7 linked regions of the Homo sapiens genome follow. The protein of the gene in region 5 purifies or fractionates together with the protein of the main gene of each other region. This does not show direct contact. Each region holds a gene or a part of one and is shown on either strand. Other genes may lie near its edges.

Evidence for each region.
Region 1: the proteins of SYT6 (region 5) and PDS5A purify together in Homo sapiens (affinity purification with mass spectrometry; one large-scale study listed by BioGRID and IntAct). This does not show direct contact.
Region 2: the proteins of SYT6 (region 5) and CKAP5 purify together in Homo sapiens (affinity purification with mass spectrometry; one large-scale study listed by BioGRID and IntAct). This does not show direct contact.
Region 3: the proteins of SYT6 (region 5) and RAP1B purify together in Homo sapiens (affinity purification with mass spectrometry; one large-scale study listed by BioGRID and IntAct). This does not show direct contact.
Region 4: the proteins of SYT6 (region 5) and GLRX3 purify together in Homo sapiens (affinity purification with mass spectrometry; one large-scale study listed by BioGRID and IntAct). This does not show direct contact.
Region 6: the proteins of SYT6 (region 5) and TKFC purify together in Homo sapiens (affinity purification with mass spectrometry; one large-scale study listed by BioGRID and IntAct). This does not show direct contact.
Region 7: the proteins of SYT6 (region 5) and RMDN1 purify together in Homo sapiens (affinity purification with mass spectrometry; one large-scale study listed by BioGRID and IntAct). This does not show direct contact.

What each region holds. Positions count from the first base shown.
Region 1 is NC_000004.12:39,862,912-39,866,411, forward strand, and holds part of PDS5A (sister chromatid cohesion protein PDS5 homolog A), read right to left. Parts: intron 549-3,500; coding exon 425-548; intron 163-424; coding exon 1-162. UniProt on the Homo sapiens protein: Probable regulator of sister chromatid cohesion in mitosis which may stabilize cohesin complex association with chromatin. May couple sister chromatid cohesion during mitosis to DNA replication.
Region 2 is NC_000011.10:46,836,281-46,839,780, forward strand, and holds part of CKAP5 (cytoskeleton-associated protein 5), read right to left. Parts: intron 1-3,500. UniProt on the Homo sapiens protein: Binds to the plus end of microtubules and regulates microtubule dynamics and microtubule organization. Acts as a processive microtubule polymerase. Promotes cytoplasmic microtubule nucleation and elongation. Plays a major role in organizing spindle poles.
Region 3 is NC_000012.12:68,659,399-68,662,898, reverse strand, and holds part of RAP1B (ras-related protein Rap-1b isoform 1 precursor), read right to left. Parts: 3' UTR 1-3,500. UniProt on the Homo sapiens protein: GTP-binding protein that possesses intrinsic GTPase activity. Contributes to the polarizing activity of KRIT1 and CDH5 in the establishment and maintenance of correct endothelial cell polarity and vascular lumen.
Region 4 is NC_000010.11:130,174,391-130,177,281, reverse strand, and holds part of GLRX3 (glutaredoxin-3), read right to left. Parts: intron 2,416-2,891; coding exon 2,376-2,415; intron 2,286-2,375; coding exon 2,193-2,285; intron 1-2,192. UniProt on the Homo sapiens protein: Together with BOLA2, acts as a cytosolic iron-sulfur (Fe-S) cluster assembly factor that facilitates [2Fe-2S] cluster insertion into a subset of cytosolic proteins.
Region 5 is NC_000001.11:114,098,370-114,101,869, forward strand, and holds part of SYT6 (synaptotagmin-6), read right to left. Parts: intron 897-3,500; coding exon 725-896; intron 1-724.
Region 6 is NC_000011.10:61,343,228-61,346,484, reverse strand, and holds part of TKFC (triokinase/FMN cyclase), read right to left. Parts: intron 3,144-3,257; coding exon 3,027-3,143; intron 2,630-3,026; coding exon 2,510-2,629; intron 2,350-2,509; coding exon 2,212-2,349; intron 1,226-2,211; coding exon 1,119-1,225; intron 1,024-1,118; coding exon 920-1,023; intron 774-919; coding exon 740-773; intron 629-739; coding exon 539-628; intron 191-538; coding exon of another isoform or gene 161-190; exon of another isoform or gene 135-160; coding exon 1-134.
Region 7 is NC_000008.11:86,481,187-86,484,686, forward strand, and holds part of RMDN1 (regulator of microtubule dynamics protein 1), read right to left. Parts: intron 1-3,500.

The sequences.
Region 1 (3,500 bases), on a different chromosome or scaffold from region 5:
GATATTTTTCAGTAAACATTGTCGTGCGTGTGCTCTTCTCTCCTTCACAGGATCTTTGGCACACAAGGCAAAGATCGCCATATACTCCAATGGGAGCAGTAACTTCACAAGTGCCTTATGCAGCTTCTGAGCAAATATCTGCCTTACTTGGTAACACTCATCCTACAGCAGCACAGAAAAACTTAAATTGGCAACCATTTATTAAATAAAAAACAGCAGTTTAAGTATTTTTAGTGTCTTCAATTAAAAAGAAGATAATTATATGGGAGAATAAATAATGTAATAATTGGAAGACAGTTAAACAGGTAATAATAGTAGTGACTTTTGTGCATATATTCACATTATAAATGGATTTGTATCCATAGAAAAGTAATGTATTCAACTTTGAAGATAAGTAATTGACAAAAATAAGATTGTTACTTACATTAATAACAAGTGCACAGAGCTGAAACTGTTCTGGGGTAATAATTTCATGGTAACAAGGTTCCTGAGCAAGCTTCATTATGGCACTACCAGCAGCTAATCGCAAGCGAGACATATCAGATTTACTATAAACAAACAAAAAAGAAATAAACATTTCCTATAACCACTATCATTCATAAAAATGCTTTCGTCCCTTTTTGAATGTAAGGTCCTTAGAGCATAATTTATGTTTAAAATGACGTACAAATATGGGAAAGCTACTTTGAGTCCATGAACTTAACACAGGGGATTGTGACTTTCACAATCAAATCAAATCATTGTGACTTTCTGATTACAAATTTACCTGCCTTCATTTCTAGTCAAACTCTAGCTTAGATACTTCACCACAACCCAAAAACTCTGCTTATTCTTGCAACCATAGTAATTGCAAGGCTAGGAAAAACTCTTTACATCAGGAGCTGTATCCCTCATTTTAAGAGAAATACATATTGATTGTAGAAAACTTGATTAAAGTGGCCAGGCATGGTGGCTCACACCTGTAATCCCAGCACATTGGGAGGCCGAGGTGGACGGATCACGAGGTCAAGAGATTGAGACCATCCTGGCCAACATGGTGAAACCCTGTTTCTACTAAAAATACAAAAAATTAGCTGGGTGTGGTGGCACGCACTTGTAGTCCCAGCTACTTGGGAGACTCAGGCAGGAGAACTGCTTGAACCTGAGAGGTGGAGGTTGCAGTGAGCCAAGGTCGCACCACTGCACTCTACCCTGGCAACAGAGTAAGACTCTGTCTCAAAAAAAACAAAAAACAAAAAACAAAAAACAAAAAAACTTGATTAAAAAAACCACAAAGAATTAAAAAAAAAATCACCTATCATCATTTAAAATCTATTTCCTGCATATAAACATGTAACAGGAATCTAGTTTAATGCCTGCTGAAATGGCAGGGCTGCAGTTAAGAGTGAAGAAGTATCAGACAAATACCTAAAGGATATGAAATATAAGAGGCCAGTGTCTGTCTTAGGTACTAGTTCCTGGGGCTGATCTCCTTTTGCAGAGTAAAGTTTTCAAATGGAACCTATGAAGCCTTGGCACTCCCACCCCGACACTGTGGATTTTTATTACTTACGTGGTAAAATGTGGTAATGAATGGGATGGCATGGGAGTCTTTCTACTTCGACTTCTATGTGGAACATAGCATGGCTTTTGTATTTATTGTGACCACTTTACGAAATGCAGAAAGCTAGCCGGAACCCACTGGGACTGTTGCTAAGCATAGAGAGAAGAAAACCTGGCACTCTTGGACAACAGGATTGTTAAAATGAGCACTGGTAACAATGAGGGAGCCTCAAATGGTTTCTATGGCATTCATTCAGGAATCAAAGTTAATAGCTATTATGTGAGTGCTTACTCCGTGCCAGGCAGGTGTGAAAAACACTTTATAGGCTTTATCTCAATTAATTTTCACTCCATAAGATGAGGAAATTGAGGCTTACAAAAGGTAATACTATATTATATGATATCCAGTTAGGATCTGTCCAATGGGTGTTCATTCTATGGTTAACCATTCCCCTATTTTTTGTGATGGAAAATAATGCTGGAGGAACATGCTTGTGTATAAGCTTTCATATGATTCTTTTATACTCATGAATTATGAGTGTAAAAATAAAGAGTCAAGGATAACATTTTTGAGGATCTAGATGCAAAATGCCAAAGAGTCCTGCTAATTTATACTCATAGGAGTAATGAAGGAACCCATTTCCATGATCATACTGAGGAATGATTGCTTATAACGTTTTTTTTTCTTTCTGATTTGTAATGAAAAGAGGTATTGATTAAGTTTAAATTGTATTGACTGCATTTAGTGATGTTAAACTTTTAAAAGTAAACTGATAATAGCTAAACTTCATCTCCACTGGGGGTCCTGCCTAGGTATCACTGACTTGTAAGAGCTCATTATTATGCCTTTGCCATGTACTGTACATAATTACCCCCAATTTAAAGCTTTCATTATCCCTAACTCAGCTCTAAACAGTGTTATAAAAGGCTGCCTTTGGCTTATTCTATGATAAAAATAGAGCGTAGTGGTGCACACCTATAGTCCCACTACTCAGGAGGCTGAGGCAGGAGGATTGCTTGAGCCCAGCTAGCCTGGGCAACATAGTGAGATCCCATTCCTAATCACAATAATTTTTAAAAAAATTAATAGCATAGCAGTACCACATAACTAGCCAAAGCTGGAGTACAATGGCGTGATCTTGGCACACTGCAACCTCCACCTCCTGGGTTCAAGTGATTTTCATGCCTTAGCCTCCCCAGTAGCTGGGATTATAGGCACGTACCACCACACCTGGCTAAATTTCTATATTTTTAGTAGAGACAGGGTTTCAACATGACCTCAATTGATCTGCCTGACTTGGCCTACCAAAGTGCTGGGATTACAGGCGTAAGCCACTGCACTCAGCCTCATAAAGAATGATTAAACCTCTGTCCTCTAAAACAAATTTTTAAAAAGGAATGCATCATATGTAGAATACTTTAGTTATCTATGTTGGTAATCTTGGCCCCTACTAAATCAAGAATTTGACAGAAACCAGGATCATGAAAAACTGAGCTTCTATTTTCATCTTAAAATGAGATGGCAATTTTAGAGATTAAAAGTGAAAATGTGTAACAATGTAAACAATCTCTGTGTGCACATACAAGTGTACACACCCAAATCTGTAGAACAACAAGAAGGCTTCAACTCTCCCTTGAGTTGCCATTGCAATTTTTATTTTTATTTATTTATTTATTTTGAGACAGGCTCTCGCTCTGTTGCCCAGGCTGGAGTGCGGTGGCACGATCTCAGCTCACTGCAACCTCTGCCTTCTGGTTTCAAGCGATTCTCCTGCCTCAGCCTCCTGAGTAGCTGGGATTACAGGCATGTGCCACCATGCCTGGCTAATTTTTGTTTTTTGTTTTAGTAGAGACGGGGTTTCACCATATTGGCCAGGCTGGTCTTGAACTCCTGACCTCGTGATCTGCCCGTCTCGGCCTCCCAAAATGCTGGGATTACAGGCATAGGCCACCGCGCC
Region 2 (3,500 bases), on a different chromosome or scaffold from region 5:
ACATCATCTTTGCAACTTTTCTGTTGGAACAATCTATAATTATTCCAAAATAAAGTTAATTTTTAAAAAGTTTCCTCTTAAAAAACTAACATTTATTTTCAAAAAAGGTAATGTCGTGAAAACGAATAATTTTAAAAAGTGAGAACACTAGGTCAGGCACAGTGGCTCAAACCTATAATCCTAGCATTTCAGGAGGCTGAGATGGGAGGATTGCTTGAGGCCAGGAGTTTGAGACCAGCCTGGTCAACACAGTGAGACCCCATCTCTTTAAAATAATAATAATAATAAAGTGGGGACACTACATACCTACCAGAAGGGCTAAAATCCAAAAACCAGATAGAACTAAGTGCTGTTAAGAACGTGGAGCAAGAGGAACTCTCATTCATTGCTAATAGGAATGCAAAATGGTACAGCCACTCTGGAATAGAGTTTGGCAGTTTCTTACAAAACTATAACTAGTCTTACCATATGATCCAGCAACCTGCTTCTAGGTATTTATCCAACTGAATTAAAAATTTATGTCAGCTGGGCACAGTGGGTTGTACTGTTAATCCCAGCACTTTTGGGAGGCCAAGGCAGGAGTTCGAGACTTTTATGACATAAAGAGTGAACTTTAATGTATGCAAATTTTAAAAAGTCATTTAGGAGACTGGGAGATTGCAGAAAAGAATGAAGACTATGACAAGGGAATCTATATTACAGATGTGTGAAACAACTTCACCAAAGGGGGTGGGAAAAAGGTTCTGACCTAAGTAGCTTTGGTAATGAGTGGAGTCTGAAAGATTAAGGGCAAAAGGAACTGCACAGAAGTATGTACTCTAGTTGATAAAGTTTTTTTCATGGAGTATGGGTTAGCAATTCTGATACTGCTATCCATGTATGTATATCCATATATAATGGAACTGGACAATTAAATAAATGGATGGTGGAAATTAGGTTTTTCACTATTGTGAATGGAAATTCAAAGATCAGCAAGGGGAGGAGGCTAGAATGATCTATGTGATAATGGATCAGAATTGGAGACACCAGTAGGAACTCATGTTTTTCCCCCCCGCCCATACTACTGAAAGTGATCTATGGAACTCGTTTAACTTAATATAGACACAGATGGCTACATAGAGAAATATTTATAGATATGTCTATATACATGGGGTTAGCATACATTCATATATTTCTTTGCTCTAACAGTTGAAAGGACCTAAAAGAAATGACACCCCAGTAGCAAAGAGAACACTCAGTACCCAGGTCTTGTTTCTAATAGCATTCTCCAATAAGGGAACCAGGGCACCTTGGGGAAATGGCTGATTCTAGCACTGGGACAAGAAATACACAAGATGAGCCTGGAACATTTCCAGATAGTAAGGAAGTACTCAAAGATCAATACAAATACGCGCACACACACACACATGTATGTTAAAGGAATACAGGAAGCTCCCAAAGGACAAAGCTGGAACAACCTGAACAACAAAATAATGTAATATTGGAGTGTAACCTAAAATATAAAATAAATATACTTGAGTCCACACTATTATCAGTAAATACTTGACTAAACTAATAAATGGGAAAGGAGAGACAAGAATTTCAAATAAATTAAGTAGGTACTCCACCCTAAGATCAAGGAACTCCCCATTCCTTAAGTGTGGGCTGCAAACAGTGACTTCCCTTCAAAGAATACAGTATAGAAAAGGAGGGGAAAAAAAAGTAAATTCACTGTAGAAACCTCACAAACACTATTTCAGGTCAATATGAACAGTCAAGGTCAATATTAAGTCATAAATCATGTTGATAGCATGTACCCTTGATATGATGTGATGAAAATGGCACTTTACCTCTGTGGTCTTCCTGCCCAAAACCTGTAACTCCAGTCTAATGAGAAAAACATCAGACAAATTCCAATAGAAGGACATCTTACAATGTATTTGACTAGTACCTCTCAAAACAGATTAAAATTTTTTTAAAAAATTCAGATGTATAATTTTTCTAGCTTTCTTAAAGACTTTCTGAACTAGTCTAAAATAATTTTAAGACTAATTGAGACTGTTAAGATACTGCTTACACCCAAAAACACAGGAACAAGCCTGGTGCAGTGGCTCACACCAGTAATCCCAGCACTTTGGATGCTGGAGCGAGAGGATTGTTTGAGGCCAGGAGTTCAAGACCAGCTTAGGCAACATACTGAGACTGTGTCTCCACAAAAAGAAAAAAATGACAGCCAGACACGGTGGCTCACGCCTGTAATCCTAGCACTTTAGCACTTTGGGAGGCCGAGGCAGGCAGATCACTTGAGTCCAAGAGTTCAAGACCATCCTGGGCAACATAGTAATACCTTGCCTCTTCAAAAAAAAAAAAAAAAAAAAAAAAAAAAATTAGCCGGGTGTGGTGGCACTCGCCTGTAGTCCCAGCCACTAGAGGCTGAGGTGAGAGGATCCCTTGAGCCCGGGAGGTGAAGGTTGCAGTAAGCAGAGATCAGGCCAACACACTCCAGCCTAGGAGACAGAGTGGGACCCCATCTCAAAAAAAAAAAAAAAAAAAAAAAAAAATTGCTGAGCCACCATTGTCGCAACATTTTTAGAATATAAAAATAAAAAAAAATAAATAAAGACACAGAAACACAGCCAACTGAATAGTCAGATACTGTTTTTATCACTTTTTTGTTCAGAGAAGATGATGCCAGTTTTGGCCAATTTTGTTCAACAAATATTTTTGACCACCTAGTTTGTTGCAGGCATTGTTGAGTCACTGAGGTAACCTCAAAGGAAAAAAAAAATCTATGTTCTGCTTTCATTTTTATGAGAAAATCTAACAATATATAGACAAACAATAAACAATTACATAACAATATATGCTATGAAGTAAATAAGGAAAAGTGAAGTAAAAGTGACCAAGAGGGCTCCTCTAATTCAGAGCTCAGAAAAGTGTCTCTTTAAGGAGATGACATTTAAGTTGAAGCCTGAGAGTGCCAGTAATACAGGCTGGGGGTAGGGGTAGAGTGAAGTGAGAAGTTCCAGAACAGAATGCAAAGACCGAAAAGAATAAGCGTAATGTGTTGGAGTTATACACATCAAGTAGGTAGAGTAACTGCCCTGATAGAAATGAGCTAAGTAATGTATTCTAAACTCCAGAGGCAAGAATAGGAAAATCATTTAAAAACCTTAAAACTCTCCAACATTGACTACCAAGAATCCTAATTAGATTAAGAACTCAATTTTTATGCGTCCCTTTAGCTACCCACCGCCACCACTGTCACAGTTGTCCATCTTCCATATGGTAAATGCCATCTTTCCTCTAAAAACTATCATGCCTGTCATTCATATTTCATCACATCTCCGATAGAAGTACTTTTTTAAAAGGGGCTGGGGGAATTCTACCCAGAAATTGCTCCTGAATTCTCCTACAGATCCCTACTTCACGTAGTACAATCATAGGTTAAGAGCAAAGGCCCTGGAGACAGACTGACTTGGGTTTGAATTCAGATTCTATCACTTAGTTCTATGATTTTG
Region 3 (3,500 bases), on a different chromosome or scaffold from region 5:
CTGAATAGCTGGGACTACAGGTACAGACGTGCACCACCATGCCCAGCTAATTAAAAAAAAATTTTTTTTTGTAGAGATGGGGTCTATGTTGCCCAGGCTGTCAGATTTGTTTTGTTTGAAAAAAAAATTTTAGTCTTACAAATCACAATGTTAAGGCTCACTGACAGATTATGAGACAAGCCTGCAAGCACTTTTAAGGCTTCTAAGGTAATAGTAAGAGTATTAATTGTAAAACACTATAACTCCCTTTTACATTTCCAAGATTTAAGAAGAGATAGAATAGATGGAGATTAAATTCAATGAAAACACAGATAAGAGTTTAACTCAAAGAAAAGTTGTAGTGATGAGTTTCGATTCTAAGTTTGCTGTCCCACAACTAAAGACGGAATGATTTAAAAAAAAAAACGGCAAAACTTCATTTTATAAATGGAATTTTAAAAATTTCTATTTGTAATGCCCACATATGGTAAAGATGAGCTATTTACGTTTAAGAAACAACTGAATCAACAAGAAAGTCAATACAGGGTTTTTACACTTTTTAGAAAAATGTAAGTGAAAGACCACTCTGATTTTCTCCTAAAACTCAAGTTTCTTCAAGTATCCTTGGGGACGTGAAAAGGAATTCATGCCTTTTCTGACTCAATTATTTTAGTATTTTCCCATTAAGCACCAGAAAAGTCAATCTACATGAGTTGTGCTCCCAAACTGCAGTTACTATTTTGTATAGGAGAAAATGGTGCTTTTTGCCAAACCACAGCCTTATTCCTATCAGCATTGAAAAAAATAAATTATATATATAGTATTATATAGACCTCCACTGTACTACATATATATATATACTCTCTCTATATATGTACTATATATAATATATATATATATATATATATATAGACCTAGAGGATAGCACTGGCATTCATTTCACTCTCCTATGAAGTAGGTATTATCATTCTCATTTTACAGATGAGGAAACCAAGGCACCCAACCAAAGGCATATAGTAGGAACTGGAAGAGCTGGGATTAAAAACCCAGGAAGTCTGGCTCCAAACTTTATATTCTTATTCACTATATAGTAAACCATCCATCTTGTAACCCTAACACTCATCTGTAACTAATGTGTTGTTTCCCACCAGAGCAGTAGTTCTTCACCAGGGTGATTTTGCCCTCCAAGTTCACCTCCCTTGTCCCCCAACAATCCAACTGGGGAACATCTGGCAATGTCTGGAAACATTTTTGGTTGCCACAACTTGGGGGCTGGGGTGGTGTGACTGGCATCTAGTGGGCAGATATTAAAATTCCTATAATGCACAGGAGAGTCGCCAGAATACATTATCAAACATAAAACATCAATAGTGCTGAGGCTGAGAAACTCTTCAATAGAATATAAATTCTAGGAGGGCAGCATTTTATAGTTGATCTTGGTTGCTGCTACATCCTTAGGCCTAGAACAATTTTTATACTTAAGTACTTAATTTGTCCAATGAATGAATATTTAGCTGTTTGAGCCTAGAACTGGGCCTGGTACATAGCTGGTAGGCAGCAAACATTTATTAAAAGTAATTATTGAATAATGGCGGTATCAATGGATGTAACAGGACATAGTAAATTGAAGTAATTTTAGTGTTTCACAGTCCCAGTTTTTTGGGCTTAATTTTTTTCCCAAATGATTATAAATAAAACCAGTTCTGCCAAAACAAGTCCCTTTTGTAAAGAATCAGACTTTTTCTTAACATGAAAGCCTTTAAAAATGTATCATTCAAACAGCGTGTATTTAGGGGATTAGCAGATACCCCTCTATTAGATATTATCACTGATTAATTGCTCCAGTAGCTGGCAAATACTTTCAAAAAGTTTTTTAAGAGCTTTACAATTTTTAAAAAGTTTTAAAATAATTCTATAAGAATTCAGTTCTTACAGAATTCAATTATAGCATATTTAAGAAAAATATCGATTCTCTAAGTGCTTAATCCACATCACTCAAAGATTTTTATAACCACAATATTCTAACTTCAATCCTGTATTTTAAAAAATCCATAGTGTAACATCCATGAAAGTATGTTAAATCGTTCCTCTTTTACCTACCTCATCAAATAGCTACTGAACATTACCCAAAGGCATTTATTCGTAAGTAATACTGCTTGATTTACAAAATTATTTCTCAAGGAAAAGTTCAAAAGGTGGTTATGTGGATATTCAAACAATACCAGAAAACTCGCTACTTCCTTATTCCTGTAATTAATGAGTCTGGCTTGCCCAGATGTTAAATTATGAAACCATGCTGTGTAAAATGCACCTATTACAATTAAAACCAGGGTAAACCCGTATTTATTTACTAGCACTGTTAAAACATTACACAAAACACATTCAAGTGGCAAGTAATTATAATGCAAGCCCTTGCATGGCAATCCAAATTTATTGAACTACTGATGCTAAGTTATACAAAATTGCACCACTTTAATTAAGGCTTTTAGTTTACATTTGGCCACCTCAAAGTAGTTGTAACATTAGGTTGGTCAATTTAAATACTGTGGCTCCCTGTTGGATAGACACACAATCTTTACATCCAAACATTAATGCATACAAAGCAACAAGGCATTGTTAAATAAAACAGCAATAGTTACTGCAAATTAGGCCTTGTGACCAATTACATATGATTAAAATTACTTCCCACATTCACATCCACAGTACTCGTCCACCATTTAACATCTCAACCAAAACGTTACACATGTGAAACAATCACTAACAGGCAAAAATACTAAACCTGTATATTTGGTATTGCAAATACACTTATGCATGAGCAAGCAAGGGATTCACAGTGAGAATCTACAGCTGCAGAAGCCTGAAAATGATTTACAAAAATTGTTAAATCATTAAAAAATTGTTTGAAAATATACACTTCTTGTTGTAGACCCCCACTGTACACACGACTATAAACATTGTTCCCTATGTAAACAAAAAAAGGAAACATATAATAAGAGATTTGAAAAGTCTGGACATTTCCTTCCCAACAGATATTAAAGGCAACGTCTTTAATCTAAGACATTATACTGAAAGGACTATCATGTTTTAAAGACAAGATCACCGTCTCCACAGGTTTTTTAAAAATTAAAAAAACTATATAGCTGTGTTAATCAAAGCGCTTATTTTGTACAATAATAATGACCTTGAATTTCTTAAAAAAAATTACAATAAGCTACAAGTATCAAAGAAGCGAAGTTATCTGGAGTAGTCTATATAGGAGCTCTTTGGACTTTCTTTTATTATGCTAAAATAGTGGTGCTTTTAGGATTTACATTATTGTACTCTCCAATACAAAGTATGGGGCATGTTAAAGTATACAGTACACCATTTTCATACATGTACAACATTGGTGGATGAAGAATGTCTCTTAGCAGTAATACTGGATGTAGCCTCTGGTTTTACCAGCTGCAAACTCTAGGACTATTATATAAGTAAAAATCTCTCTTGTGATACTGGAAAGTGATTAGAATGTGCAAACTGAT
Region 4 (2,891 bases), on a different chromosome or scaffold from region 5:
ATAACAACTCACAATTTTCTCAGGACACTAGATTAGCTGAGTAACTAAATCATCATTCAGTCCCTCATTCAACAAAACAAACGCTCATTGCTCCAAAGAGGCCAGCCAGATTAGACCATTTCAAACATCTTTTAATTGAACTGAACATGAAGAACTGCATTCTGCAAGAAACAGATCAAAATGGGATCGTAAGATCTATTCCATATATCTTCTCAAGGAAAAACGTTAACAATATCACACATTTCAAACGTATATGTTCTTAGCAGGTGAACATAAAAAATCATATAACACTCTGTTATATAACTAAAAAGAAGTTACCCACGCAGCTTAGCTTTAGAATTAAATGAGATTTATTGATTGTATCTTCCCAAGAGTTACCAATGGCTAAGGTACAGGCTATAAAACATTCAGACAAGAACAGGCTCAAGAGTATTTGGGGTTTGAGTATTCTTTGTGTCTTACAAAAATAAGACTATATATATATATATAGAGAGAGAGAGAGAGAGAAAGAGGGAGGGAGGGAGGGAGGGAAGGAGGGAGGGAGGGAAGAAACAAATGCAGATCTGTTTCTGCTGCTTCAGGGCTATTCAAGAGCAATAGTCTTAAAAATTTTTTCCTCCAGGAGTGAGACCATTCCCCAGGAAAAATGTCTCACTGGCTTGTTTAAGAAGTATGATATCAAACCTGGAACTCCACAGGAAACAAAACCTACACAGAGGCCACCAAAGGACAAAAAGAGCCTCTGCATCAATGGAACTCAAGCTTTGTTTTTATAAAACATATTGGTCCAAAGTGCTGATGTCATTTCAGTGGTAGGCTAGTGCTTCACTTTACAAAAGCACGTGTTAAAAACTTTTATTTTGGCCAGGCGCGGTGACTCATGCCTGTAATCCCAGCACTTTGGGAGGCCAAGGTGGGCGGATCACCTGGGGTCAGCAGTTCAAGACCAGCCTGGCCAACATGGTGAAACCCCATCTCTACTAAAAATACAAAAATTAGTGGGGCGTGGTGGCGGGTGCCTGTAATCCCAGCTACTCAGGAGGCTGAGGCAGGAGAATCACATGAACCTGGGAGGCAGAGGCTGCAGTGAGCCGAGATTGCACCATTGCACTCCAGTGGGGAACAAGAGCGAAACTCTCTCAAAAAAAAATGTAAAAAAAAAAAAAAAACTTTTATTTTACAACATAACTAGAAGTAGTACTACTTGCTATTTGTTTTCCACATAAAAAGTCGAAGATCTGACCTCAGAAAATTCTCTCATGGATTGAGGCAAGAGGAAGGCCTGAGGGCAGTCAGCAACCCACTTTTCGGGGCAGTTTTGTTCATGCCCCTGAGCAGACCCTGGCATTCCTGCCCAGCATTCCTGTCTAGCTCCTCTCTATACCCAACCAGCTACCACCCTCCTCGATGCCACCATGCCCACAGTGGGCCTGGGGTGCAGTGGGGTCTGTGTGTAGATATTAAAGCTACAGCTTCTGTTTATTGTTTTGGGCTAATCAAAGAGCTACAGAGCACACAGGTGTTAGTTGGTGGGCCTGCCCTGAATTCTAGACATTAAATACATGCAAAGTAACGTCCATTTAAAACTCAATCAAGAAGTAAAGTCACTTATCCATCCAACAACCATTTACTGAACTCCTAAAATACACAAAGCATCAGGAAGGACTCAAGATACATAAGAAATGGTGTCTTATCTAAAACACAATCTAACAGATAACAGATTTCCAAGCATCTCAAAACCAAAAAGGACCTACATTTTTTCTTTCGGGGGACCAGGGGCAGTGATCCTCAGCCTCTGTGGCAAGGATGGGCAGCACCGGGCCACAGGCCTCACACTGCTGTCACTCCATGCACCCAAGGGCAGATGAGTAAGGCAAGAAAAAACAATTTGTTGTCTGGGAGCTGAAGCAGGATCTAACAAGGACCCTGAGTGACAGGGAAGATCACCCCACAGAAAGGAGATGCAATGGTTAGCTCAGGTGTGAAAGTAAGAACAGGCTGCCACGTGGGGACAGTGAGAATGGCAGGGTAGTCATGCACACAGAAACGGTGATACTGGTCTAGAAATGTCTGAGAGTCAGGCTGGAAACAGGAGTCAAAAACAACTCTCAAGTTTCCATTCAATATGAAATCATTTTTAAACATACCAAAATCTTTTCCGTTCTTTAGAACAGCAGAAGAACTGGCCTTACCTTCACAATATCCAATCCTCCCACCAGCTCCCCTTTCACATACAGCTGAGGGTATGTTGGCCAATTTGAGTAAGCTTTTAATCCTTGCCGAACCTAAAGAAACAACAGGAATCCTGAAACCATCCTATCAGGCCCTTAAGATTAAAGCTAAGACAAGGGTGAAACATCAAACACAGAACTTACTTCTTCATCCTCCAATATATCGAATGTTTCATATTCAACACTGCAAAAAAGAGAAGACATTTTAACTGGAAATACAGTTAAATCAAAGTGTAAAACCTCTATGCATTTGATGTTTTTAAAATAATCAAGAAAACCGTTTCACTGCTAACAAAATGTACTACAGACCAATGGAAATGATTTTACTTCTTAATCTGTCTGGTACTACACAGAATTAGTCATTCCAACATATGACTTTATCTGGATTTTTCTCCGGACAATATTGGGTTAGACCAGGGGTGGGCAAACTTCTTCTTAAAGAGTCAGACACTAAACACTTCAGGCTTTACAGGCCAGACAGTCTCTGCTGCAACTGCTCAGTTCTGCTCTCTGCTGCAACTGTCAGCATAAAAGCAGCCACAGACAATGTATAAATGAAGGGATGTGGCTATGTGCCAATATAACTTTATTTACAAAAATGGGCAGCCAGCTGCAACTTGCCAACCCCTGGATCAGACCCACACCCCCATCTGCACGAGC
Region 5 (3,500 bases):
GGCTTTATTGCATGGTTTCTTTCTCCTTTAGCTAAAGTGACAAGTGGAGAGAAGAAGTTATGGGGACCAGAGTAGTTGAAAAATGTTTTTGAGCCAGCCTAGATGGAAGAGCAGGATGAGTGGAAGAGACGAAAAATATCTGAGGAAGGGGAGATCCGATTGGATGGATATGCTGGGTCCAGATTAGGGAAGGCCATCAGAGTCCAAGGGAAAAGCCTGGATCACAGGAGCCATTGATGGTTCTTGAGAAGGGCAGGTCCAGGAAGAAAGCTGTCATTTAGGAAGATGTGTCCTTAGTATGTTGACCGAATTGTGGCAGGAATTGATGGAGGCAGGGGTCAGCTAGGAGGCTGCACAGCCATCCCAGGGTGACAGTAGTAGCAACAGCAGAAATAGAGAGGATAGAGGGGCATTTCAAAGGCCAGATAATAGGACTTGGTGCCAGATGGAAGAATGGGAATAGCAAGGGGTGAATTCAGGGAAACTGATGGACAGAGCTGCCCCTGACGGAGATAGGCCAGTTGGGAAAAGAACTTTGAACCTTTGCTAAGGGAGAATCTATGCTCTTCCTCAAACTCCTGCACCCTTCTTGGGTACAGATAGATTTGAGGCCTGAACCCTAAAGCTGAGCCCTGAATCACAAGGTCTAAGGTCAAGGAGCCCTGTGCTGGTGCTGGAGTGGGAGTGAGGGGTAGAATTACGTCCCTCTAGGACGCCTACCTACCGATCATAGTCCATGACTGAGATGAGCAGGCTGACTTGATCCATGTTTTCCGGGGGAATGTCAAAGATGATGGCCTCATTGTAGACAGGATTGAGAGTGTTTTTCTTTATGGTTGTTTTCTTCTTCTTCAGCCTCCGCCCATCACAGAGCAAGGACACTTTCACATAGGGATCTGTGCCAATGGGGACAGAGAAAAGGGAATGGAGTATGTTAAACAGATGTCTGCAAACATCATTTGCAGCAAAGGGACCGAAGCCCTAGACCTACTGCTGCTCATCAGATGGTATCAGTGGGTTGTTAAAATAATTAAACCACCTTGTATTTATGTAGCACACCTGTCTCTGAGGACACTCTGTGCTTAATAAATGCAGAGTCTTTAGCTACCTCAGTATTCTTGGGAGAGCGCCTAATGGACTTTTACTAATGGGGAAGCTGGCCCCATATCAGACATGACACCTGCCGATAGGTATGCAGTTCACAGCCCTAAATCTCAGCTCGTCAATCCCTGGCTGACTCAAAAAGGTGATGAGGCTGAACAATGACACTATTTCTTTTACCTATGTGGAGTACTATTCTTTGAGTGGCTTTTTTGTTTTACCAGAATTACAAACCAAAGGATAAAGGTTTTGGGGCGGGGTAAAAATAGGACTCAACAATGGCCAGGGAGACACAATGTGTCAGAGTGAAATGAACAGCAACAATCACAATGCTGTTCATGTCCTCCCCACCTGACAACATAATTTTGGGTCCCATTGTCTCAATAATCCCATTTCCATTTGGCATCTAGAAGGCGTGAAGTGGCCCTGCTCTCTGCTTCCCTGGAAGCCATTTCCTGCCCACTTCTGGACAGTGGAGAATGAGGGAGCTGTGGCCCGGGGAGACTCAGGGCAGCTGGTTGACATTTCCTTTCTCAGTGGGATCTTGGATTCTCTCCATCCTGCAAAGAGATGCTTTTATTGAACTTCCATGTGCCTCCCATCCTTTTGTTTTCTTTAGTTTTCTGAATGGGTATTTCATGGTCATCTTTCTACCCTGAAATTTTCTACTCACCCAAGTGAAGTGAAACCTAGTGTATCTCATAGCACAGGTGTCTCGGTCACCATCATAATTGTTATTTATGCTGCACAGCTCAAGAAATGGGAGGGCGGCTCACAGGTAATAATAGCTTTCGAGACGCTGATGTGCTGAGACACCTTGTTGCCCAGAAGCCAGGGCTCCTGTGAATCTGTCAGGAGGTGCCAGCCAAGCAGCTGCTCCCCAGCTCTGTGATTCATAGGCATATGGTTCTATCTCCTGGACATCGAGCACCCACTAGGGCCCTGTACTCCCTGGCATCATTCAGATGGCAGATGAGGCACACATCCCTGGTGGAAATTAGGGAGAACTGTGACACCTGATCAGAAACTCCAAGCCTGAAAGGCATTTTTGTAGACACCTAAATGAGCTGCCGACTAATCCATGTGGCAGCAGTAGCTATGCCTTAACCATGGGGAGATGAGGTTGGGTTTATGGAGAGACCATGAGGTGTTTAATCAACCTGCTGTCTCAAACTACACATTTGAAAGGACCCTCTCTTAGGGATTTTCAGTAAAATGGAAGTAAGAGTTTTGAGAACCGGCATGAGGCTCTGGTTTCCACAGATTCCATTCTCTATGGATATGCCCCAGGACATTATTCAGGTTCAGGTAGACAGATGGGCAGAGCTAGCCCCAATACCTGTCTTTAACACAGCAGCTTGCAAAATCCATAAGGATGTACCTTTTCTTGCAAAGTGGCTCCAGACTTGAGGTTGCTCAGGTGCCGCCTCATTCCCCTGCTCTACCTATTTCCATACACTCCCACATCAGGGCAGATTTCCATATCATGAGGCTTGGAAAAATAGAGGCAGAGCCACTTGTCCCATGGGCCACTGAGCAAATGTCTTAGCAACCTTCCCCAACTCTGTTCATCCTTACAAGGCATATCCATTTTTTTTTAAGAGACAAGGTCTTGCTGTTTTGCCCAGTCTGGTCTTGAACTTCTGGGCTCAAGTGATTCTTCCACCTCACCCTCCCGAGTAGCTGGGATTACAGGCATGAGCTACTGTGCCTGGCTGATATGAAATTTATAAAATTCAGTGCACATATTTCCCTTGCAGGAACCAACACTTTCACCAGCATCCATGAAGCCAAGCAGACAGATGACCGTTCCCTAGGCTTTTCTGGGGCAAAAGTCTGCGGTTTCTAGTGGAATGCTGGCCCCAGATGATCTTGGAGGTCCTTTCCTCTCTAACAGCCTATGATGCTCTACGCAGCTGAGGGAGGGGACACAAAGACCAGCAGTGTATTTCAGCCTCATTGTCATGGGAGCAATCAAAATCCAGCATTTAGAATGTGCTCACCACCCCTTTGTAGCATACTGGTCCTTATTATTATTTTGTGCTATTTTTAGTGTCATGGTTCTAGCAGATAGGCTTAGAGAATTGATTCAGGGCTAGTTTAGATCATTGAGAATAGGAAGATCCTGGGTTTTAGACATCAATGCCACACAATTCAAGAATAGGCAATTAATAAGCTCCATTCAATACCTAGCTTAGTCCAACATCGAATAAGTCTGGGCTGAGGGAAACCTCAAACTCATCCTCAAGAACAGGAGATCTAGTTCGAGAGGCTCCTAGCAAGTACACCCCCACTGCTTCACCCTTGGGCCAGGTTCCTCATGCTGTAAATTCAACCATCCATTCATTCGGTATCTATTTATTGAATGCTTACTGTGTTTTATCCACTGTTCCAGATAC
Region 6 (3,257 bases), on a different chromosome or scaffold from region 5:
AAGATGGCCCGGAGGATGGCAGCAGCTGCCACCGCCCCGGGGTCTGGCTGCTCCAGCCGTGCTGAGCTGATATAACTGGCTCTTCCGGCTCCAGCTTCCATATTCTTGGTGGCCTCGGCTGCAGCTTCGGCACTCTGGGGGATGGGGTGTGGGAGCAGGTTCAAGGGCAGATCACCAGGCCGCCTCCTTCCTGCCATGGGCAGAACGTCTCTGCCGTGCAGCCTGGCCCTGCACGCCCTTGCCCTGGCTCTGCCAGCACCCTCTGCTCTGTCACCAAATGGAAAGTCACTTCTCATCTACTTCCAGCAGGGAAAAGGGTCACCATTCACTGAGGCCCTGTCACATCCCAGGCAGTGTGCGGGGCTCTACATATTTCCTTAGCCACATAACCACCTTCTGAGATAGGTGCTCATCTCCATTGTACAGAGAAGGAAACTGCGGTCCAGGAAGGTTATTAACTTGCTCAGGGTCACATGGAGACAGGAGTCTGCTGGCTAGAAGCCTGTCTCCCCAGGTGGCTGGGCCCAGCCTCACTCACCTTGACTGCTTTGGTCAGGACTTGTAACAGATCAGCTCCTGGGCTCTTCCAGGCTTGGAGCTCCTGCCCCGCTGCCCACAGAGAATCCAGCTGGACAAGGTGAAGGAAAGGGGGCTGAGCACGGGCCCTGCAACCGAGGGTGCTCTTTAGACTTACAGGGCCAAAAGGAGAAAGGTCTGAGGCCACAGCCTGAGTACATACCATAGTCCTGTCCCCTGGAGCAGCCTTGCCATACCTGGCAGGGAAAGAGAGTGAAAGAGGCTCACTATAGGGAACCAAGGGAATCACTCTGAGGGTTGGGCTAGGGCCTGGCAGGGCGCAGATGTCACCAAACACCTCCCCCAGCCCACCCCTGGTCTGATGCACAGGGCTCTGGCTCACTTCTGCATGGCTTCCAGGCCGGCATCCATGGCAGCAGACCAGGCTGGGAGGCTGGTCTTGGCCTTCAGGGGCTGTGCAGCCGCAGTCAGGAACAGGCCATAGAGCTGGGGAAGATGACAACGCTGAGCATGTGGTGCTGGCCTGGACCCCAGCCAGCCCAGCCACCTCCCTGTCAGCCCTTCAGCCCCCAGGCACCCACCGCCCCAGATGAGCCTCCCATCTTCTCCAGGAGCAGGACAGACAACTTGGAGAGCAGCTGGGCAGGGCTGGCAGGGGGTGGGCCCTCCTTCAGCCACTCCTGGATTGCTGCAGGCAGAGAGAGATGGGGAGGAATTCAGAGATCCTCCCTCCATCTGCCAGACTTCCAGCCAGCACCAATGAAGGCTGGAAAAGGCCGACAGGGAAGTGGAATGAAGGCTTCCCAAGATCCCTTTCCACATCCAGTGTGCAGTCTGGAGAGGGGCTGGGCTGCGTAACCGAAAGGGGCCTGGGGAGGTGAGGCCTGCCCCGAAGCCCTCCACTTGACGCTCTGTACTCTGCTCCCTGGCTTGGTTTTTTTCTCCTTAGCCCTTTGTGCTAACATCCTCTGTGTTTTACTGATTTATCTGGTTGACTGTCTTCCACCTAGAACATAAGCCATGAGGGCAGTGATTTCTGTCTGCTCTGTTCACTACTGTATCCACAGCTGAGAGCAGTGCCTGCCCCACGGCAGGCACCAAATACCTTTTTCTCGAATGAATGATGCTGGACAGTTAAGAGCTTTTCACTGGTCTGGGTAAACTGAGAAAAATAAGGACAACAGAATAAGTTCGCCTTGAGTTGTAAGTTATTCACTGTGAAGGATTTCATTTAATTCTAAGATAACAACCTCATACATTTGTGGTGTTAAGAAGGTCCCTGTCGGCCGGGTGTGGTGGCTCATGCCTGTAATCTCAGCACTTTGGGAGGCCAGGGCGAGCGGATGGCTTGAGGTGGGGAGTTAGAGACCAGCCTGGCCAACATGGCGAGACCCCGTCTCCACTAAAAACACAACAATTAGCCAGGCGTGGTGGCGCATGCCTGTTATCTCAGCTAGTCAGGAGGCTGAGGCAGGAAAATCACTTGAACCCGGGGGGCGGAGACTGCAGTGAGCCGAGATCACACCATTGCATACTCCAGCCTAGCGACAGAGTGAGATTCCTTCTTAAAAAAAAAAAAAAAAAAAAAGGAAGGTCCCTGCCTTCAGGGAAACAAGTGGAAGGGGGGCTAAGGTTTTGTGAATGACCTCACTTGGCAAAGTCCCTGGCACCAACCTCTGGCCGCACGGCTGTGGGTGGTGCCACAGTCGCCGTCACCAGCAGCCCGGTCCAGGGCATTCAGGTGTTCCTCCAGGCCCAGGAGAGTGCTGCACACCCGTTCCAGCACCAGCGCCATCCGCTTCGAGGCTGAGCCTAGAAAGGGAGGATGCTGAAGAACAGGCCCACCAGGCCCTTCTCACAACCACACTTGACTATGGTGGGAGGTGTGGGTGCCAGGGCCCCTACCCGCCCCACCGTATACTCCTGCATCCTTTGGGAAGCCTGTCCCTTCCCCAAAGGCAGGGGTTGGTACCTCCTGCAGCAGTGGAATCAGGGGCCTCCTGGGGCTCGGCAGGGGCTACCCGGCTCCGCTTCCGCCCAGTAATGGAGACTGCAGCCACGTTAGGCCAGGCTGCTGCAGTGGTTTCAGCATCTAAGGGCAGCAAGATAACTCTCTTAGACACGGCTGTCCAGCCAGGGATTCAGCAGGGCTTGGACCCTCCCATCCTGACCCTGGTGGCCTGGCTTTCTCAGCAGCCCTGGAGGAAGGGAGTCCACCTCGACAAGCATGGACTGAGTGCCTACTGTATACAGGGGTATGGAGAGAGGGTCCCTGGGAAAGGGTCAGGCCTCTCTGAGGAGGATCCTAATACCAACTCCTTCTAGTCCAGTGAGAGCTGGAGAAGGCTGGAGAAGCCCAGGAAGAGCCTTCTTCACAGGCTCCAGAGCCCTGATTGTCACGGTCAGCCCTGACGGGGTCTCCAAGTCTCCCTGGCTCCTTCCAGTTACAAGGAGCCCTGGCTTGGGTGACCCCAGGTTCCAAGTCTCACCTATCAGTTTCAGGAGAGGCTCATCCACCAGCAGGAGGGTGAGAGAAATGCCAGGCATCTCCAGTGCTGACATGAAGGTGCCCACCAGGGCACGGGCAATCTTCACCCCGCGGCCCTCTGCAATACCAGAGTGTGGCAGTCCAAAAGGGAAAAATGGGCATCAGGGAAAGAAAACAACAGAAAAGCAAGGACCTTGGAAGCTGGGGCTCTGAGGTCGGGAGGGAGATGTCC
Region 7 (3,500 bases), on a different chromosome or scaffold from region 5:
GCATGGTCTCTGAAACCAGACTGCCAGGATTCAAGTCACAGCTTAATGACCTTGAACTGGTTGCAAGATCTATATTCTTACCACAACTGAGTTTTTTCTCTTTTATGGAAAAGTCATGTACTTAACTCATAAGGTTGTGGTAAAAAATAAATAAGTATCTTAACATGTTTATATGCAACTTATGCTCTAAGCAACCTTTCTCAATTGGGAGTTCCACTAAAAATTAAGCCCTACAAAAAAATTGTGTAAGTAACTATTTTTTTCTATTTCCTAAGAATGATACAGAAATACTGTAGTCCCATTCTAGATGCATAGGAAGGAAGTTAATTCATCACAATGGATGCCTGGGGGGATCAGGGTTTAATTAATTTTCCTTTTTTTTTTTTTTTTTTTTTGCCTTTGCCAAAATAAGGTTTTATTTTGAAAGTCATTTGAAAAACACTGAGGAAGGAAGGAGAAGACCTAAGACCCAATGGATGTAGGTTCCAAATTTGGATTCTTGCTGGCCCCACCAATGGTCTCTGTCAGGCCAAGAAGGTTCTGCTTTCTTTGGTAATTCCTATTTTTTTAGCTTCCTGGAGAAGAGATCTTTTCCCACAAGCCATCTTCATTTTTTTTGTAGAGTAGGGCTTTATTTCCAGGAAACAGTGTGTTAGTTGGAGCAGTATTTTTTTTTAAAAACATCAAGGTAGATCTAATATGTTCAACAAAGTGGGGTGGCTCGGCCAGACACGAAGTGGAAAGATTCTCTAGTATTTGCTTGTCATCTTGCTGCAAGCAGAAATCCACATGTGGAAATGGTGTCCAGGAGTACAGTCCTATACGAAGTTGTTCTGTCTTTGCATCGTAAATGCTAATCACTGGTCCTCCTGCTAAAGCTCACGCGGCACGCAGCTGCTCCTCTGGACCTCGATCTTGAAAGGAGGCTCTGTAGGCCAGGCACGGTGGCTTATGCCTGTAATCTCAGCATTTTGGGAGGCTGAGGTGGGCAGATCACTTGAGGTCAGGAGTTTGAGACCAGCCTGGCCAACATGGTGAAACGCTGTCTCTACTAAAAATATAAAAATTAGCCAGGTGTGGCAGTGGGCGCCTGTAATCCCAGCTACTTGGGAGGCTGAGGCAGGAGAATCACTTGAACCCTGGAAGCAGAGGCTGCAGTAAGCCGAGATCACACCACTGCACCCCAGCCTGGGCAACAGAGGAGACTCTGTCTCAAACAAAAAAAAGAAAGGAGGCTCTGTAAATCTTTGCAGTCTTAAGTTGACAGCAATGCCATATATTATTAGAAAGTGTTATTCGTTTTCTTCCTGGTCATTTAATTCTGTCACACATAATCATAGTATCACTAAGTGAATGTCATCTTCTTGCCTGTCAAATTCACTAAGAAGTTAATGAGTGAGTTTTTGTGACAACTGCCTCCCACATCACTGAAGCCTCCCACGAGGTATACTTCCAGGCTTCCACATTGAGCGCAGTCGGAAAAAGACTTTATGGAGTTCATGATCAAGGGGACCCCAGCTTTGGTGTCGGTTCCATCACAATGTGTCAAGCAGGTGGCGCCATAACCTGTGTGCAACAGGACCCCAATGTGACAAGTAGTGGCATTATCAGAACCCAAAATGGAGACGGAGCCATCCTTTGGGGAGGTCACTGCGAGCTCTCTTTGCTGAACATACAGAAGGCCCTGGGGTCCCAGTTGTTGAACAGACTGACCTCTGATACATCTGGCTGTTTCCTCCAGAGGCAGGTGGGCTCGGACGAGGTCCCCGGCGGACTGTGGCAGCCGCACTCGCTGCCCCTCGATGAGCAGTGGCATCGTGGAGGCAGCCGCCCAGGCCAGGGTTTAATTTTCTTATGAGAAGGGTTGAGAGGGGTACTTTCAAGCAAACTCTTTTATAATCAATCCTTCCTGCCACTGGTCTTTCAAAAATAATCCAAAGATGTTACCACTTTAGATATATAATGGAATTTGAAATGTAAGCAGTATAAATGATCTTTTTTATATGTAAATACTAAATATTGCCATTTAAAATATAAACATGTACATTTGAAAGCTTATATAAAACATTGTTTTTTATAATCTATAACCTTCACTGTTTTTTAAAAAAATGGAAAGTATACATTTGTGTATTTTCTACAGTTCTTCATTATTCCCTTTGGAAGTTATGTCATGTATTTCTACATCCTGAGGCACAGAGAAATTAAGCAATTTATCTAATGCCACTGAGAAAATTACTGTATTTCCCTGAATCTAAAATATCAAAAATGACACACCATTAGTTTATGTGCCACTAAGAAAGAAAGTATCACTGCCAACTACAATGTAAGGTTCCAGCAATTACATCATGTAATCTCATTTCAAGGATTTTAAACTGTGAAACAGGTAAATTGTTACATTATAAAATGTCAGTTATTATGTATATATTACTATCCATACCTGAACAAGAAAAGCTAGGTCTCTGGACTCCCAGTCATTCTTTTTCACTAGTTGTTATATAAACTAGGAATTGACACTAAACCATAAAATTATGAAAAACTATTTAAATAGCAAATTCAGCACTATCCCTATGTATGTTTCCATCATTTTTCCTTCCTATAATCTCAAAAGAGAAATAAATATGCTGGTATTTTTGTGGTAGTTTTTTTTTTTTTTTTTGAGACAATGAAGTTCATCCATGTTAAGAAATATACAGACTCCTATGCAATTCTTTGCACCTAACAGCTTACTATAAATAATTAACTTTAGGGGAAAATATTTTTAATAAAACACACATACAATATACACACAGATATCAATCTTAAATAGAATTATTACTACAAGGAGTGGTGTGTCAATTGTGTTAAAGACTGTTACACTGGACCACGCTTTCCATATTCAGGAACTTGTGTCAATGCTCCCCTCCCACAGAAACTGGGCTTGCCCTTGTGACTTGTTTAGATTAACAGGATATTACCAAGTGTGATGCAAGCAGAGGCTTGCTAGAACTTTGTACATTGGATCTTTTCCCATGGAACACTCATTCTTGGAAGCCGACTACCATGCTATAATGAAGGTTGAGCTAGACAACTAAGTGATAAAAAAACAAGTGAGGAGAAACTCTCATAGGTAAGAGGCCATCTTGGACACTGTAGTCTCAGCTGAGGGCCCAGGTGAATGCAGCTGTCTAAATGACCCCAGCTATACCAAGCAATGTAGAAGTGCCACTGCGCTCAGTTAACCCAAAGAATTGCAAGAAATAACAAACTGTCGGCTGGGCACAGTGGCTCACACCTATAATCCCAGCACTTTGAAAGGCCGAGGCAGGTGGATCACCTGATGTCAGGAGTTTGAGACCAGCCTGGCCAAAATGGTGAAACCACACCTCTACTAAAAACACAAAAATTAGCCAGATGTGGTGGTGTGCCCCTGTAATCCCAGCTACTCGGGAGGCTGAGGCAGGAAAATTGCTTGAACCCGGGAGGCGGAGGTTGTAGTGAGCTGAGATAGCACCATTGCACTC